Linked DNA regions of Homo sapiens: region 1 is linked to region 2. Evidence: fine-mapped expression QTL. A gene starts in region 2. The other region holds a variant in brackets. All regions are shown on one strand. Distances are between the middles of the regions.

The links.
Region 1: its variant is fine-mapped to the expression of DOCK9 in fibroblasts (GTEx, PIP 0.98).

The regions. Positions count from the first base shown.
Region 1 is chr13:99,081,438-99,091,183 of GRCh38, reverse strand. DOCK9-DT (DOCK9 divergent transcript) reads right to left here and starts at 4,461. Exons shown (of 1, transcript NR_047482.1): 1 at 2,559-4,461. It also overlaps a transcript of DOCK9 not described here. RefSeq lists enhancers at 2,776-3,335, 3,898-4,459 and silencers at 3,340-3,569, 4,150-4,209, 4,300-4,609, 4,650-5,129. The variant C/T (reference allele first, on the strand shown) is at 4,884.
Region 2 is chr13:98,973,196-98,981,195 of GRCh38, reverse strand. It overlaps DOCK9 (dedicator of cytokinesis 9), which reads left to right and starts at 3,132. Exons shown (of 53, transcript NM_001366683.2): 1 at 3,132-3,412. The coding sequence starts at 3,287.

The sequences.
Region 1 (9,746 bases), 110 kb before region 2:
CAGGCCGGGCACGGTGGCTTACACCTATAATCCCAGAACTTTGGGAGGTCAAGGTAGGAGGATCACTTGAGCTCAGAAGTTTGATACCAGCCTGGGCAACATAGTGAGACCCTGTATCAACAAATAGTAAAAAAAATTAGGTGGGCGTGGTGGCATGCACCTGTCCTCTGAGCTACTTGGCAGGGTGAGGTGGGAGGATTGCTTGAGCCCAGGAGTTCAAGGCTGCAGCGAGCTATGATGGCACCACTGCTCTCCTTCCTGGACAACAGAGCAATAATCTGTCTCAAAATAAATAAATAAATAAAATTCAATCAGTGCAAGGATAAAATAAAGAACGAAAGTCCCCTTTCACACTTCCCTGTGACAGTGCACAGGAGTGCCTCCTTTTTATGGGTCACTTGTTATTTTTGCTAAAAACAGATATACTCTTTCAAGATATATCCAGAAAAGATTTTAAACTAATTATATGTTATTAAGACACATACAAATCCTAAAGCAAACTTAACAAGGAAATGATGTAGTAAGAGGTTATCATTAAACATGAGTAATGCTTGAATTATAAATTTGGGTGTAGTACAGTCATTTACATGCAAATTTCAGAACTGGCTGCAATTATATTTCATCTCCACTACCTACTAGTATAATTTTCAACAGAAAGAAAAGCTTTCTTCCTATAGTTTGGAAAAACAAAGATGAGGTTACTCCATCAAGCTAATGTAGGTGGATGTATCTTCTACCGTACCTGAGACACCATCCACCCAGTCCAGCCAGAGGTCAGCCTCATCCCAGGTAGCCAGGTAGCACCCTCTTTTGGGCTGATGCTCTGCCCCTCTGTAGGTATGACTGCTCTCCAGGAAATAGTGATGCCAAAAGAATTCACACAATTCCAGGCCCACTCTGGTGGAAATTTTAAAAATAGCCTTTGGCCAGCATGTTGGTTTCCCAGGACTGCTGTAAAAGTTCCACAAACTTAAAACAACAGAATTTCTTCTGTCACTGTTCTAGAGGCTAGAATTCTGAAGTCAAGGTGTCAGCAGGCCATGCTCCCTCTGATGACTTTAGGGAAGAATCCTTCCTTGCCTCTTCCAGTTTCTGGTGGTTCCCAGTGATCCTTGCTGTTCTGTGGCTTGCAGGTGTGCAGTATTCTCCTTCCTACCTTTGTTGTCACATAGTATTTTTCCTTTGTGTATGTATTTGTGTCTCTTCTTATAAAGACACCATTCAGGCTGGGCGTGGTGGCTCACGCCTGTAATCCCAGCACCTTGGGAGGCTGAGATGGGCGGATCACCTGAGGTCAGGAGTTCGACCTGACCTCAGCCTGGCCAACATGGCAAAACCCCTTCTCTACTAAAAATACAAAAAATTAGCCAGGTGTGGTGACAGGTGCCTGTAATCCCAGCCTCCTGGGAGGCAGAGGCTGCAGTGAGCTGAGACTGCACCACAGCACTCCAGCCTGGGCAACAGAGTGAGGCTCTGTCAAAACAAACAAACAAACAAACAAACAAACAACCATTCATACTGAATTAGGGCCCACCTATTCCAGTAGGACCTCACCTTAAGTTGGTTACATGTGCAAAGACCTATTTCCAATAAGGCCACATTCACAGGTACTGGGTTTGGAACTTCAATATATCTTTTGGGGGACTACAATTCAACCCAGAACAGTAGGGACCAAGTTTCTGCTGAAACTTTAACACTAGGAATGTCCCATTTGTTATCAACAGCACTTCACCAGGAAGAAGAGGCTCCACTCTGGGTTGCTGGGTCCATCTTCCTGGGCTTAGTTCACGTTTCCATGCCGCCTTGTCTGTCAGAACCTGTGCTTGGTTAGACATTGCCAGTGACTACTGTTGGCACATTGTCTGTTGTTCTCTGCTTCCTAAATGAAAATCTGCCAATTCTAGAATATACTGAATCAGCAAGTAAGTACAGAATTTAGGAGTGGTAGAGATATGGATAAAATTGGTAGGTTTGGGGAATTCTTCACTTTCCAGATATACATATATTTAAATAAAATTTATGGTAGGTCATTGTCTTGGACTGAGCTCCTGAACTAGGCCCCAACAGACCAGACTAAAATGAAGCCACTGTGTTAGGTGCCACGTAACTAAACAGAGATTTTAAAAAACAGGAAAATCCCCAAAAGGGCCAGTTTTCCAAAAACCAGGAGATTCACAGCAACCAGTCAAACGGGGCCCAGTCAGCCTGAGCCAGCTAAGGCAGCCCCCTCTGCTTTAACCCATAAAGGAGAGTAACCTGAAGTTACCCGATGTGCTTTCGGCACTATGCTTTTCCCTTGTTCCTGCTTAAGTTACCTTAACAAAACCCAGCTGTTCTTCCATTCCCACAAGAGCTCCCGTCTATTTTGTAGTCAGAATGCTGCCTGGTTCATGCATTGCTAATAGAAGCCAATTAGATCTTTAAAACCATTTGTTGAAATTTTGTTCTTTAGACTACACACACACACACACACACACACACACACACACACTCTACTGTAATCATATAGCTCTTAAAAAAAGAAAAGAAAAAAGAATATAAAACCCTACAACCTTAGGTGCTTTTGTTGTTGTTTTTAATTTAAAAAGACAAAATTGTTCGCCTTGTATAGAAGTAGATACAGCTTAGAGAGCCAAGGTAACAAGAGGGGAAAAGTTTGTGTTGTCTGGTACTTTTGAGGGAGTCAGAAGCCTAAAGGGAGGCTCTAACTCATGATTCTCAGAAGACAACTGTTGTCAACAGTTCAAATGAGAACTGAACGGCCACACTCCTGCAGCTGAAAGGAGTCAATGCGAGCTGAGTTGCTCTCACCGAACAGAGTGCGTTCCCCGGGGAGGCAGGGAAAGGCCGGCTTGCACCTGCTCTGTCACCCAGCTCCACTCTTAGGACAGAAGAGGTCTGGAAAATGTCTGGGCCATTCCCTCATTTCACGGAGGAGGAAATGGGTTAGTGTGTAATTGTTTTTATCATCACCCTTGTTTTATCTTTCAATCTGCCAGGCTCACTCAATGCTACATCCTGCAGTCCCCACCCACTGGAGAAACAATCCGATCCTGCAAGTAATTATTGAGTGCGGACGGCATACCTCACCTCCAGACCTGCCCATTAAACCCAGAACGGAGGTGTTTTGCTCTCTGCGCTAGATCGGTATTTTCCCCTACCACTTTAAGATTACGCTTCAGGCCAGTGTTAGGCTTTCTGGTGGGGTGGGACGCAACAGGCGGCCTCCTCCACCGCAGCGATGGCGGCTATGAAACCTCTGGGTATTTGGGCGGGAGGCGCGGCAGGTATTCTCCCAAAACTGGGTTTTCAAGACCACCACTCTCTGCGGAGGCCGACCCGGCAGGTAAGGAACTGTCCATCGGAAGGCAACGGGCGTGGCGTGAGCAGCCCGACCAATCAGCAGAGCCGCCGTTCAGTCAGGCTCCCCGCCCGGGGTACCCGCCCAGTCCCCAACCACTGAGCATGCGCCGCGGGCCTGGCGCAAATCCCCGCCTGGCGCGCCCTCTCCGCGGCCCTGTGAGGGTTAGGCTGCGCCGGGCTTCCTCAGAGAGACAGAAACGGAGCCGGGGCGGGAGCGGGCCCTTAGGGACAGGAAAGCGGTTAGGGTATTGGGGGGAAAGTCCCTCACAGGGTGGCTGTCGCTAGCGGCCGCCAGCTCTGCGTCACGGTGGGCTCGCAAGCCGGCGCATCGCAGTTTCCCTGGTACCCCGCCTGGCGGTCCGGCGCGGAGGGGCGGCAGACCGGCTAAATCGGCCCCAGTGAGGGCCGCCGTGTCACCTGAGCCCCTTCCAGGCCGTTGTCCTCAGGTTACAGGCGACATAACCGAGGCTCCGAAGTATTGCCCACGTCCAAGGTGACGCAGCTGGCCGTCCCGGCGGGCCGGAGTCTGGGAGTCTCCCACGCCTGGCCCGGCCCAACCGTCATCGTCCCGCCGCGAGCTCCGTGCCTCCGGGGACTGAACGGTGGGGAGGCCGAGGCGCCACACGAGCGCGCGGCGCCCCGCGCCAGGTTCCGAGCAGGGACGCTCCGTCCAGGTCCGCCTGGCCGGCCGCGGGTTCCGATCGGTGCCACATAAATAAAGGCTACTTTCCTGAGACCTCTGTCCCCGCAGAGGCCCCGGGCGCAGAGGGGGGGCGTGGTGCACCGAGCTCCGACCCTGCCGGTGACTTCGGGGTCCCCTCGAGCGCAGCCGGGCTCCCTGGGCAGGAAACCCTGCTCCGAAACCGCGCATCGTCCAGCCTCGGCTGTGCGCCCTCTTGGTGGCGTGCGCAGTCCCCTCCTCCGGTCTTCGGACGTGCGGCCCGGGGCGGAGGCGGCCCCGACCCCCCACCTTCCCCAGTGAGGGTCCCGCGCGGCACGCCGCCCCTGCCAGTCCGGCCGCCTAGCTCCAGCGCCGGGCCGCGCCGACCTGCCTGGCCCGCCGTCCCGCCGCGGCGGCCCCTCCTCCGCCGTCCGGGCGCCCCGCCCCGCCCGCGCCGCGCCGGACACCCCGCCCCGAGGAGGCGGCCCGGCGAGTGGTCGCCGAGGGAGGCTGGTGGCATGGGGGAGCCGCCGCCGCCACACGCACGGTCGCCCGGAGCGAGCCCGGGCGCTGCTGCGATCGCGGGGGGCCGCGGACGCCGAGGGGGGCGCCTTGGGGCGTGACACGGTGCAGAGGGCGCGGCCTGGGCTGCGGCGGCCGGACTCGCGGCGAGCAGCGGGGGGAGCAGGCGGCGGCGGCGCCGGGAGCGGCGGGCGGAGCGGGCCGGGCGCCGAGGGCGCACCTGGCGGCCGCGCGGCCGGGCCGGGCCGCGGGAGCAGGCGGAGGCGGAGGCGGCGGGGGCAGGAGGATGTCGCAGCCGCCGCTGCTCCCCGCCTCGGCGGAGACTCGGAAGTTCACC[C/T]GGGCGCTGAGTAAGCCGGGCACGGCGGCCGAGCTGCGGCAGAGCGTGTCTGAGGTGGTGCGCGGCTCCGTGCTCCTGGTGAGTGCGGGACGACCGCGGGCCGGGGGAGGATGGCGGGGGCGCAGGCAGCTGCGGGCCCCGGGCCGGGCGCCTCTTAGTCGGCAGGGCTGAGGCAGAGCGGCCGACCCTGCTGGGTCCGCGGAATCAAGAGGTGGGGCCGGCGGGAGGGAGTTGGACAGGGGAGAAGAGAAGGTCCTGGAGGGGCTGCAACTCCCAGACCCCTCCCCGCCACCCAAGATCCTGTCCCCATCGCTGTCCCCTTCCTCCTGGGAAATTTCCGCAGAGTGATGTCGCCCTGTCACTCTTTTCACCCCGCTCTCTCCCAATTTACCTGCTTTCTGTCAACTGGGAAATTACACTCTCCCCCCTCCCCCGCATCCCTCCCCCGTATCCCTCCCCCGGCCTCCCTCTCCTTCCATGTTTTGGAGGGGCGCAGGGGAATTGAGGTGGGGGCTTCCTCATCCAGTCTGCGCTCAGGGTGGGAGATGCCCCTGCTAACCCTTTGAGTTGGCTGAACTCCAGGAGGGAAGGACTTCGGCATCCTCTCCTGCGCCCCCCACCTCCAAGCCGGTATCCTGAAGTTTGGCCGCCTTTTAGGAAGGCTTGGGGGGCATGATGGGAACCCTCGCTAATTTAGTATTGGTGCAAATTCCTGTGACGTTTGGGGGTTCTAAGTAAGCAAAGCCATCAGCCCAAAACGAATCTTCCCGTGGCAGAACGTCTTTAGAGAATAGGCCTCTGGGTGTGAGGAAGATGAAGTTTTCGATTAACTTTTTCACAGCCAGCGCCGGTCCTGCTGTATTTGGAAACGCACTACAACCCGATTCACCTGGATGGTGCGGGAGTGGAGCGACGTTTGAGCAGGAGCGAGCTCTGCAGGGCAGCTGGAAACTTTTAGCAGCTCCTTGCGTTGCCGCCGGCATTTGTTTTCTTGAAACGGGCTTGTTTGTGGGTGGGTGTGACTTGTGTTTGTTGGAACAGTGCAAGAAGATGGGCCTTGGAAGTGGTTGTCTGGGCCCTGTGGGGGATTGTCGGGGCAGAGTGCCGGGCCCCTTAACACAGGGGCGGATGCATCATTTTGGTGGCAGATCGATGCCCTTCCTGGGCAGACACAGAATTGCGTGAATGACGTTTGTGGAGATTGGAGATGAAGCTTCGCTGATTTCTATATCCAGTTTGCTCAGTTTGAATTTTCTCTCGATTGCTAGCTCTGCCAACTCCAAATTTCTCCAACTCCAGTTTGATCCATAGTAAACAAGGATTTAATTTTTCTATTTTAGGGAAGTCGATTAGGTAAGGAGTAGAGCAGGAGTTGGGAATAGACCAGAACCTGGCCATCTCTTCCATAACCAGCTAACTTCTGTGTGGCTTCCTGCATCTTCCTGAGTTTTGCCAGTGCATGTTAAGGATAAAGCCTGCAACTTCTTTGGCATCTTTTCTGTTCTCACACAGAAGTTGGTTCCTTTATCTGGGGCCTGCCGTGGTCATCAGGGATTTGAGGCAGAAGAAGAGTAAATAAAGTGTACCAGTGTGCCATGATTTCCAAAGTGCTGCAGGTACTGGTTTAATAAGCCGTGTAGATGGAGCCCAGGAGTGCTGGTGCAGACACAACACTGCTGATGTGCAGTAGTCCCCGAATATCTGCCCTTCCCATCGGAGGATGGCCTACTAATGGTGACCTAGGAGTGTCCATTCCCACGTGTGACAGGCTGCCAACTGTGTTATCTCATGATACTTTAGTAGTACATCCGTTTTCCCTGGACACCCTTAAGCATGAAGAGCCAGATGCCCGGCTGTTGTCTTAACTCTTAGTCTCGTCTGTCTGTGGTCACTTGTCTGATGAAACCTGTGATGGAACAGATACAAAATGCAGGGAAGCAGGTGGGCCTGCTCTGGCATGTGAGGGCCCCTGGCTGAATGGGAAATAGGAAATGCATTGTGATGGTTCTGAATTGCAGAAGGAAGAATCTGGGAGGGCTTACAGATACTGAAAATTACCCACACACCTCATCCCCCCACCTCCTTCCTGGTACTCTGCCACTGCTTACTTCCTCTAGTGGCTCCAGTGTCTGCCAGGGAGCCACAGCAGGTGCACCTGCCACATAAGTTCTGGCCGGGCTTTGTTGTATGAAGGTCTAAGAGGTGAGGTAAGGTAACCCTGGACTTCTCAGGAGGCAGAGCAGCAACCACGCCAGGTTCAGAATCCCATGGTCTGTGCATCTGTCCTTAGATGGAAATAATTACTCTGTGTCTGATAACTTGGGTCAGCACTAATACAATGCCCACAACATAAATGCTCAATAAATATTCTTATCTAGCTAATAAAGCAGTTCTGCAGATGGATTTAAAAAAAATTAAACTATGTGTGGGTTTAGTAGCTCTTCCCACACTTCAAGTATTGATGAGTGGATGGTCATGAGATCAGAAACAACAAAATGAAATAGTTCAGTGGATGATAAAGGCTGCCATTAAAAACAAGCTTTAAAATGTAAACATAATGTGGGCTTATCCATTTTTCATTGTTCAATAGCTTCATTTTTCATGTGTTCAGGTTCATGGACTTTCATGAATGATTTTGTATTAATTTGTTTGAAAAGCTTGAAAATAAGCATACAAAAAGTAGAGAGAATAGTATAATGAACCTTCATATTTCATCATCCAGATTGAATAATTATTGAGATTTTGCCAAACCTGCTTCATATGTCTCTTCTTCCTATTATTTTTCATGTGTGATTGTGAGTCCCAGGCCTTATATCATTTCACCTCTATATAACTAGTATATGTTACTTAAAAATAGGGTCTATTCTTACATAACTGTGTCATAATAAAATTAACAACTTGTTAGTATGCTCTTCACATTTCCCAGATTATATTAAAAAATATTTGATTGTTAGTTTGTTCTAATAAGGACCTAAAAAAGCTTTGTAGGCCTTGTCAAACATGGTTAGCTCTTTCATGAGCCTTAGAATTCTTTTTTTTTTTTTCTGAGATGGAGTCTTGTTCTGTCACCCAGGCTGGAGTGCAGTGGCGTGATCTCGGCTCACTGCAACCTCCGCCTCCCAGATTCAGGTGATTCTCTGGCCTCAGCCTCCGGAGTAGCTGGGATTACAGGTGTGTTCTACCATGCCCAGCTGATTTTTGTGTTTTTAGTAGAGATGAGGTTTCATCATGTTGGCTAGGCTGGTCTCAAACTCCTGAGCTCAGGTGATCTGCCTGCCTCGGCCTCCCAAAGTGCTGGGATTACAGGCGTGAACCACCACACCCAGACAGAATTCTTTATAATGGAGAGAACCCTCCATGGGGTCAGGACTTCTGGGTTTTAATCTTAGAGGTTTAGTAGTTTAGAGCATGGGTTGTAAACCTGGTTTTATGCCTCACCAGCTGTACAATCTTAGGTATATAACTTAACCTTGTTGGGGCTCAGTTTCTTCATCTGTAGATTGGAGATAATAATTATGCTTTCCTTGTATTGTTGTTGGAAGGATTAATTGAGCTATGTGGGTGAAGCTCTTAGGCAGTGGCTGGCGTATATTCTACCAGCTACTTAAGTCCCCTTGGACTGTTGCTTAATGTCTCTGAACTTCAAGGTTCCTGCTCTGTTAAATAAGAGGCATACTCGGTTTTTCTAGAGTCCCTTATTCCACCAATGGGCTTCTATTTGAAGCTGTTTTTTTTTATTTATTTATTTATTTATTTATTTATTTATTATTATTATTTTTTTGAGATGGAGTCTTGCTCTTTTCACCCAGGCTGGAGTGCAGTGGCATGATCTTGGCTCACTGCAACCTCCGCTTCCCGGGTTCAAGTGGTTCTCCTGCCTCAGCCTCCTGAGTAGCTGAGATTATAGGCGCCCACCACCACACCCGGCTAATTTTTTGTATTTTTAGTAGAGACGGGGTTTTGCCAATTTGGCCAGGCTGGTTTTGAACTCCTCACCTCAGGTGATCCGCCCACCTCGGCCTCCCAAAGTGCTAGGATTACAGGGGTGAGCCACTGCGCCCGGCCTTATTTATTATTCTTTTAGAGACCATCTTAATCTGTCACCCAGGCTGGAGTGTAGTGGCATGATCATGGCTTGCTGCAGCCTTTGAACTCCCGGGTACAAGCAATCCTCTTACCTCAGCCTCCAGAGTAGCTGGGATTACAGGCATGCACCACCACGCCTAGCTAATTTTTGTATTTTTTTTTAGAGATGGGGTTTTGCCCTGTTGCCTAGGCTGGTCTTGAACTGGGCTCAAGCAATCCCAAACTCCTGGGATTACAGGTGCGAGCCAGCATACCCAGCCCTAAGCTGCTTTTATAAAAGTAGTGGAGGTGCTACTAGGAACATTTTTAACTGTAGGAAAAGTAATTTATAATGTTTGGTAATGAAGGAAGAATCCTCACAATTTCAGAATTAGCTTTCCATAATTTAGAATAGTCAGGAAGGTAGCATGTTCAAAACGTACGCGAACTCAGAAGAAAAGCTAGAAAGAATTCCCTGAGCAGGGTTGAGTTATGATTACTTTTAGAGCTCCTGAAAGGATTTTACCTCAGGTCTTTCAGATGTATTAAAGATGGCATCATAATGACCTAGATCTAAGAGGATGTATTAATACCACTCAAAGCCTACAAGTGTCCTTTCTCTGAAAGATTTGTGTGAATATCAGGTCACATCCCTTTGCATGGGCATGCTGACTGTCCTGCACTTGGGTATTAATATACAAGTCTTCTGGCTGCCCGGCTTCCTTACTGATCTTATCTCACTATGTTCAACTTCAAACTCTTCTTCGATGTCAAGCACTTGCCAGTGATGCCACTCCT
Region 2 (8,000 bases):
AGTCCCAGCTACTTGGGAGGCTGAGATGGGAGGATTGCATGAGCCCAGGAGGTGGAGGTTGCAGTAAGCTGAGATTGCACCACTGCACTCCAGTCTGGGCAGCAGAGCCAAACCCTGCCTTGAAAAAAAAAAAACAAAAAACAAATTACTTGCTTTACAACTTGATATATTTTCTCCTTTTGATGTTATATATTATGGAACTGATCATGTTTTCCTTTTTGTCCTGGCTACTTGGAAACTCAGAGCAAATTAAAAGTGTTTTCCTTGATCATAAAACAAAAATATAGTCATTGCTAACCATTTTGAAAAATATAGAAAAACTTCAAGAAGAAGGCCTGGCTCATGACATGAACATGTGGGGTTCAAAATGAATATTTGAAGGCAGCTGTCATAATCAAGCCACAGAGAGGGAAGAATGGTTGATGCTAAGTTGCTGAAGCGCTTTGTAATGTGTGATAGCAACACGGTTGGTGGAATTGTCATTTTAGATCACACAGCAAAAGCCCTGAGTTTAAGACTAAAATTAATTTCTTCAGGTTGGAATGAGAACAGCAACAATACAGTAGTTACCATCAAATGAATACCTGCTTTGCACAAGGCACTTAAAGGCTAAAGGCCATCTAAAGACCTTTTTACCTCTTCACTTCCATGATAGGGTTAAAGCCAGATGCTGCTGTCTTTAATTGCTGACTGGTGATTGGTATTGTGCCTTTTAGCAGTTTGAACATAGTATCATGGTTAAGCGTGTGTACACTGGATCCATATTGCCCCTGCTCTCTGTATAACGTTCTGCAAGTATTTAACGTCTCTGGGCATCAGTTTCCTCATCTGTCAAATGAGGATAACAGTATTACATAGAGTTATGAAGATTAAATAAACAATCTTTGTAGGGCTTGAACAGGCATGGGCCATAGCCAGCACTTACAGTGTTTGTCAAATAAATATCTTAAAGTTCATTTCTCATTCCTTACAGAATACCAGGGTATTTTGACCCAACAAATAGGGTAGGCTGAACACAGTGGCTCACACCTCTAGTTCCTGCTACTTGAGGGGCTTAGGCAGGAAGATCCTTGACTCCAGGAGGTCAAGACTGCAGTGAGCCATGATCGAGCCCCTGCACTCAGCCTGGACTACAGAGCAAGACCCTGTCTCAAACAACAACAATAACAAATAGAATAGCATTTCTCTTATTAATGCCCAGACATTCTGATGGCTTAATGGCGATGGGGATTTGAGGAAGAACTGGACTATTTAGAACTTCCTGAACCATCTCAAAAAGGTTTCTGAGTTGTTGGTTGGGCTGTCCTTTACTAAGGCTCAGTTAGTCTGTTTTGTGCTTGTGGCTTCATCCTTTCTTTGATTTGTAGGACATTCCTAAGTTTTTACTTTACTATAATTTCGACTCTATAGGTAAGTGAGAGTTTTTTCTTACTGGGTTTTTTCTGTTGTAACTTTACAAAGAAAGATTTTTAAAATTTATAGATAATATTATTTTGGAACACAGATTTGGTAGGGGGACTTCTATTAACCCTGAAAGACTACCCAAGGTTGAGAGATTGGGTAGTTTAAAAAAAATTATAGAAGCCATTAATTTATTTGATGGACTCATTGATCCTTTGAGATCGTTACATAATTGATATTCACACTCAGAAGGGTTCCTGGTGTTCAAGTGGCAGAGACCCAGCTTCAGCTTCACTCTTGAAGTAGAGCAGCTGCAGCAGGTGCTAGGAGAGGGAGGCGGCTGTGCGAGGACTGGGTGGCATCTCAGTTCTCCCCACTGCCTCCTCTGAGCCCTCCTGGCTGCGTTCCTTTGTCTGGAAAGTGGGAGACTTTTACCTGTGACTTGTATAATAGTTTATGTTATTTCCCTGGGTAGAGTTCCTCTGGCACCTATTGTTGCTACATGATAACTACTCTCGTTGTTGACTGACTGAATACTGCTGCTGCTGCTGCCGCCGCTGCTGCTACTACTACTACTACTACTACTACTACTACTACTACTACTACTACTACTATTGCTGCTGCTACTGCTGTTACTGCTACTGCTACGGCTGCTGCTGCTGCTGCTGCTTGTTGTCTACTGTTACTAAATCTTCCCTGATGTCCAGGAAATACTCAGAGTAACTAGGAAAAGCTCTGCGGTATCCATGAAGTACAGAGTAATATTTGATCCCCCCTTTAATGTTCATTTCTACATAACTTTTAGACAAATCCCTTAATACCTCTGTTTTAATTTTTCCCAAGAGGTAAAAAAGACTCCACTGTTAAATGTGAGGAAATAATAAAAATACAGACTTTTAGGAACACATATTTTGGGTGCTACTAAACCACCATTGAACCGTAGGTTGGTGATCCAGCTATTTTCCCGTGCTTTTGTGCATCTCTCTCTTAATTTTATTAATTTGTCATTTATGATGTCTGCTCTTCTTGCCTTCCCAGCTAGATGTGAAGTTCTTTGAAGGGAGAGATACTCTACCTTATACTTTTAGTATGATCCTCTCAGCACCTAGTACTGGGGGTACCTTCTGATACCCACACATCTGGACTTAAAGTAATATTCTGTTTAATAAATGCATTTACTATGATATGTGGTATCCCATGAAAATGTTTTGATGACCTCATCTTTCTGGCATCAAATAGTACATAAATTAAGTGTTTCATGCTGTGGTCTGTCATGCGGGGTGAAACTCATTTCCTCCACCTGTATCCACGAGGTGCAGGCTATGGGAACATACTTGCTGGTAGCTCTTCCCTGCTTTAATCATCAGCCAGGCATTTGGTTTTTAACCATAACACAAATGAAAGCATTCCAAAACTGGAAGAATTTTAGAACAAGCAGACAACCTTGCTGTCTCTTAAGCTCCACGAGCTTCAGATTTAAGGTAATTATGAAGGAGTCTAACTGTGACTGGTTTTCTTTTAAACACTGCAGTATTTTGATTCCGATTGATTTGGCCCACGCTGTGTGGAACAGACACAATAAAGCCGGTCTTTATCAGAGAGGCAGTACACTGTGTATTGTTCAGCTTGGAGTTTGTTTTCCTTTGGCCAGCAAGTAGGAGCCTCCCCTTTTGCATGGAGTAGTAACACCCCTGGAGGCTGGCCTTTGCTGTCATGCCTTCCCACCCCACAGGCTCTGCAGACCCAGCCAGCGGGGCTGACCACTTGTGCCTGGGAAGCCAGTTTCCTTTCCTTCCTTGGACCACTGGCATGCCTGTGCCTTGCACGGCCAGGGACTCGCAGCTGTTCCAGTTGCAGACTTTCTGACTTGCGTTTTCAGCCGAGAATGCAGGCTGATAAATGCAGGACAAGTAGTAGAAGTGTCAAAAAGGAACTGGTGATTGAGTCCCCCCTGCAATACAAGGATGCAGCTCAGGGCGAAGTGGAAGCAGAGAGCCCGGGCCCTGTGCCGGTAAGAGGGTCTCGTACAAAGTGTTGCTGTGTCTACCCAATGCTGGGTTCTTATTGTGCGTGTGGACGGGGTTGACGCCTGTTGCCTGTCTTTGATTTCAAAACTTGCTCTGCTTGTCCCTTGTGAACTCCACTCTTTCCCTGTAATATGACTTCGATTCCCCTTTGATTCTTCTTTGTGAAGAAAGAAATGTTGACATTTTGTGGGTGAATATGGTTTCTGGGAGGTTTCTTTGTATGGGACAATTATGTATTGTTCACAATTATGTCCCACCTAGCTGCAGTGTTTGCAAATGTAAACCCAGGAAGCATATTTTAATTGCAACTATAGGGTTGAAAAAAGATGTGCTTTGCAAAATTAAAACCTTTTCTACGTTATTTATGCTATTGAGAAAATGAGGCAGGTCCCATTGGGGGTTTTAAGGAACATAACTGTTGGAAATATTACATAGTTTAGAAAGGATAAAATCACATATGTTCTTCTCACTCATTTTACCAGGAGGTTTGCCTTGAATAAAGTAGGGAAGAACCTAAACTGTGAACCAGCTGATAGAAACGTTTCTGTTCTTAACATCAGCTAAACTCTCAGCATTTGTCTAAAGCCAAGTGCTTTGGTGGACTTTGGAGGGGAGGAATGTGAAAAATGGTTGTGTTGTTATCATCAGTGAGTAGGTTGTGCTTCTCTCGGAATTTCTTCAGTACAATAAAGGCACATAATTTTTTAAGCAAGCTGCACAAAACCACCAACATGCCCTGCAGAGGGGGGACAATTGAGCCTTTCAAATTATCTGCTAAAGAGATTGTTAAACTGATATGTAGTGATTTTATTTAGTGATTTTTTTTTTTCTTTAACGTGGAGGTTCAGTTGATGTTACCATGAAGTGTTTGCTTACTAATTTACTTAATTTTCAATTAATGTCTAAGAATCTGAACTTAAACTTTCCTATAACAGATTTGATTTGAACTGAGTTGCTTTCTTTGTGACTCGTGAGACTGCCCTATATTTTATTGCCTTCAAAACTATATTGCTAACCCTGAACTGAAAAGTTAGTAAAATATCATGGTCTTTTTCACTGCAGATTTTCATCTTAGAGATTTAGGTTTCTTTTCTTCACCCTCTGCTACATTGTTTAGAAATGTAATTCATTGTTCTGGATTCCTTGCTGCCAATATAATAGCCCACTTCTCTGTTGGGTTGCTCACAGGCTGTATGGATTTCACTGCTTAAAGCAGCTGATGTAACTTAGGATTTCTTGGAGGAAGTTGTGTGGTTTAGGTTCCCTTGTGAATATTCTTAAAAATCTTCTGTCAGTGATTCTCCAGCTGTGTAGAAATATTTGTCTACAGGACTGAATACACTGTAGAAAGATGCTATGCAATTTTTTTTTTTTAAGCACACAAGTGACTTCTTAAACTTACTTCTCTTTCTAGTGCTCAAGAAATTTGCCATTTATGTCCTAGCTATTTGTTTAGGTAAATCTCACTCCAGGCAGTTCCTCTGGGGGTCTTTTTCCACTGCAATGGATAAAGCTGTGCTGGCTACAGCTGCATTTGGTGGGAACACTTGTCAGGGCCCAGCAGCTTGTGGCAGTGTGATCTCAGCTCTGCGCACCTGCAGAGAGGGGTGAGGGAGTGAGGAAGCCAACAGTGATACCAGAAGTTTTTTCTTATCGGGCAGTGTTTCTCTTCTTCCAGCAGGGTAAACAAGATAAGAAGAGCTAATGTCAGATCAGGGAAGCAAGGATATTTCAGCAGGGCCTTTGCCGAGGGCAGATCTCTTACCTGTGGCTGTTGCTGCCCACTGGCAAACAAGAGTTCAACAGACTGCTGGAAAGGCAACTTGTTTCTCAAGATGATTTTTCAGAAGGAGGCAGACACCATTGTGCAACCTGTTTGTGGCAGTACTATTCATTGTTCGAATGTCAGTGGCCCACGGGCTTGGTAAGAATCCCCAAGACTGTCTATCATTTGAATGCATTATACCTAGAGACGTTTAAATGTAGGTAACATGCTTTATTCAGGAGGTAGCATTTTGAAATAAAGTTTTGCTGTTTTTAGTTATGTACAGAAACAGTCCTTGGGGAAAAATATTACATAAATTAAAACGGATAAAATTAATTAATGCGTGTAGTATAGAAGTAGGAAAAACAAGAAATGCAAATAGTGTAGCAGTAGGAAAGACAGTGTCCTTGTTTTTACTCTCCAGTGGTGACCATTATTAATAATTCAGTGTATATACTTCCAGACTTTCTCCTGTGCCTAGAACAGTATAACTTGTGTGTGTGTGTGTGTGTGTGTGTGTGTGTGTGTGTATGTGTTTAGAGAATATACTATTATGGTAGATTTCTGGATTGATTTTCTCCCAGAACACGTCAGTAACATCTTTTGTCACCATATGTGGATTTATGCCTTTTTTTTTTTTTGAGACAAAGTCTTACTCTGTCATCCAGGTTGCAGTGCAGTGGTACGATCTCGGCCCACTGCAACCTCCGTCTCCTGGGTTCAAGCCTCCCGAGTAGCTAAGATTATAGGTGCCCGCCACCATGCCCAGCTAATTTTTGTATTTTTAGTAGGGACAGGGTTTCATCATGTTGGTCAGGCCAGTCTTGAACTCCTGACCTCAGGAGATCCGCCCGCCTCGGCTTCCCAAAGTGTGATTACAGGCGTGAGCCACTGCACCTGGCCTATGCCATTATTTTAATGGCTGCATATTATCTCATTTTAGGTCTGTACTATAATTGGATCGTTATTTAATTTGTTTCTAATTGTTTGCATTAGTAATGAGGCTACCATAAATGTACCTGTAAGTAGATCTTAAAGCATGTAGGCAAGCCAGTATTTGTTCTAGAAACTTTCTATCATAAGTTCCCTCCTGCCCTTATGATTGGTGGTAATGTTTTTTCTCCTCTGCCAGGGCCGCTTTGAAGGTTTCCCTTAGCAGTGGCTGCTTGTTCAGTGTTAGGGAAAGTTAGTATTTCTTTTTCTTTCTTTTTTTGGAGGTGGAGTTGTTCTTTTTTTTTTTTTTTTTTTTTTTTTGAGACAGAGTTGCTCTTGTTGCCCAGGCTGGAGTACAATGGCATGATCTCGGCTCACTGTAACCTCCGCCTCCTGAGTTCAAGCGATTCTCCTGTCTCAGCCTCCTGCGTAGCTGTAATTACAGGCGCATGCCACCATGCCCGACTAATTTTTGTATTTTTAGTAGAGACGTGGTGTCATCATATTGGTCAGGCTGGTTTCGAACTCCTGACCCCAGGTGATCCACCTGCTTTGGCCTCCCAAAGTGCTGGGATTACAGGTGTGAGCCACTGCGACCGGCTAAAAGTTAGTGTTTCCAAGAGAATATGTGTTTGGACATTATAAAGTTTCAGAGGCTGCAAGGTTCAACTTACAGGCACCTACATGGGTGGGTCTTGTCCCCTGCATTGTGACAGTAAGTGAGGGAGGAAGCACATGGTGAAACTTCCCCATTTCTATCCAGGCTTACTGCCAACCCCACTGAGAAATGGCTTTGGGGGCTAGAAATCACTACCAGGGGAACAGGCAGGATATTCTTGATGTCTGCATGTTAGTTTCCCTGCTCACATTTGAATACCTATTTTTACCCCCTACCCGCCACCCCCCTTCAAAACTCTAACGTAATTCCTGGAAACAATTTATTCTAATTGTTACTGCTCAACAGTTTAGAGGAAAAAGGTGTGGCTTCAAAGTGCCAAAAAAGGCTGGGTTATATGCCATTTATGCAGCCCTTTCATTGGGTTCCTTTTGTGAGGCTGGTAGGGACTGCAGCACAGGTCTTATTTTGGGAATTTTTAAGGTTGAAGGATGTGAAGATTGAGAAGAGCTGAATTTTCCTATTAGGTGTACTCATAAGGTATTTTTTGAAAAGGATCAGCGGGCACTGTGGCTCAAGTCTGTAATCCCAGCAGTTTAGGAGGCCAAGGTGGGCATTGCTTGATCTCAGGAGTTCAAAACCAGTTTGGGCAACATGGCGAAACTCCGTCTCTACAAAAAATACAAAAATTAGCCAGACGAGGTGGCATGCACCTATAGTCCCAGCTTCTCGAGAGGCTGAGGTGGGAGGATTGCTTGAGCCTGGGAGAGTTGAGGCTGCAGTGAGCAGAGATCACGCCACTGGACTCCAGGCTGGGTGACAGAGTAAGACCTTGTCTCAAAGAAAATAAAAGTTTCTTTTCAGAGACACCTTTTGGGTGGCTCATATTTTCCTGGGATCCTCAAGTGTTAAAAGCAGAATTTTAGTTCTTATTTTAATGTTTGAATGACCACGTGATTACTCTAGCTAAATAACTCTGTGAGAAGGCAGTGCGAGTACTTGATGTAGAAAGTAGTAGTAGGACTTGGCTTCTGGTTGGACACACCAGTACCTTATCTGGGAACTCTTCTGTCTCTCAGACAGAGGAGGAATGAGACTAGAAAATCTTTCCTATCCCTGAAGTTCTGTTTGCTCTAGAAATAGCAGACTAAGTGAGGTATAAGCTTATGGGCAATGATCATGTTGTTAATTTTCAATTAGACTTTAGGTGACTGTGATTGAGTTAATTAAATTATGCTTAGACAATAGCCTTTCTGCC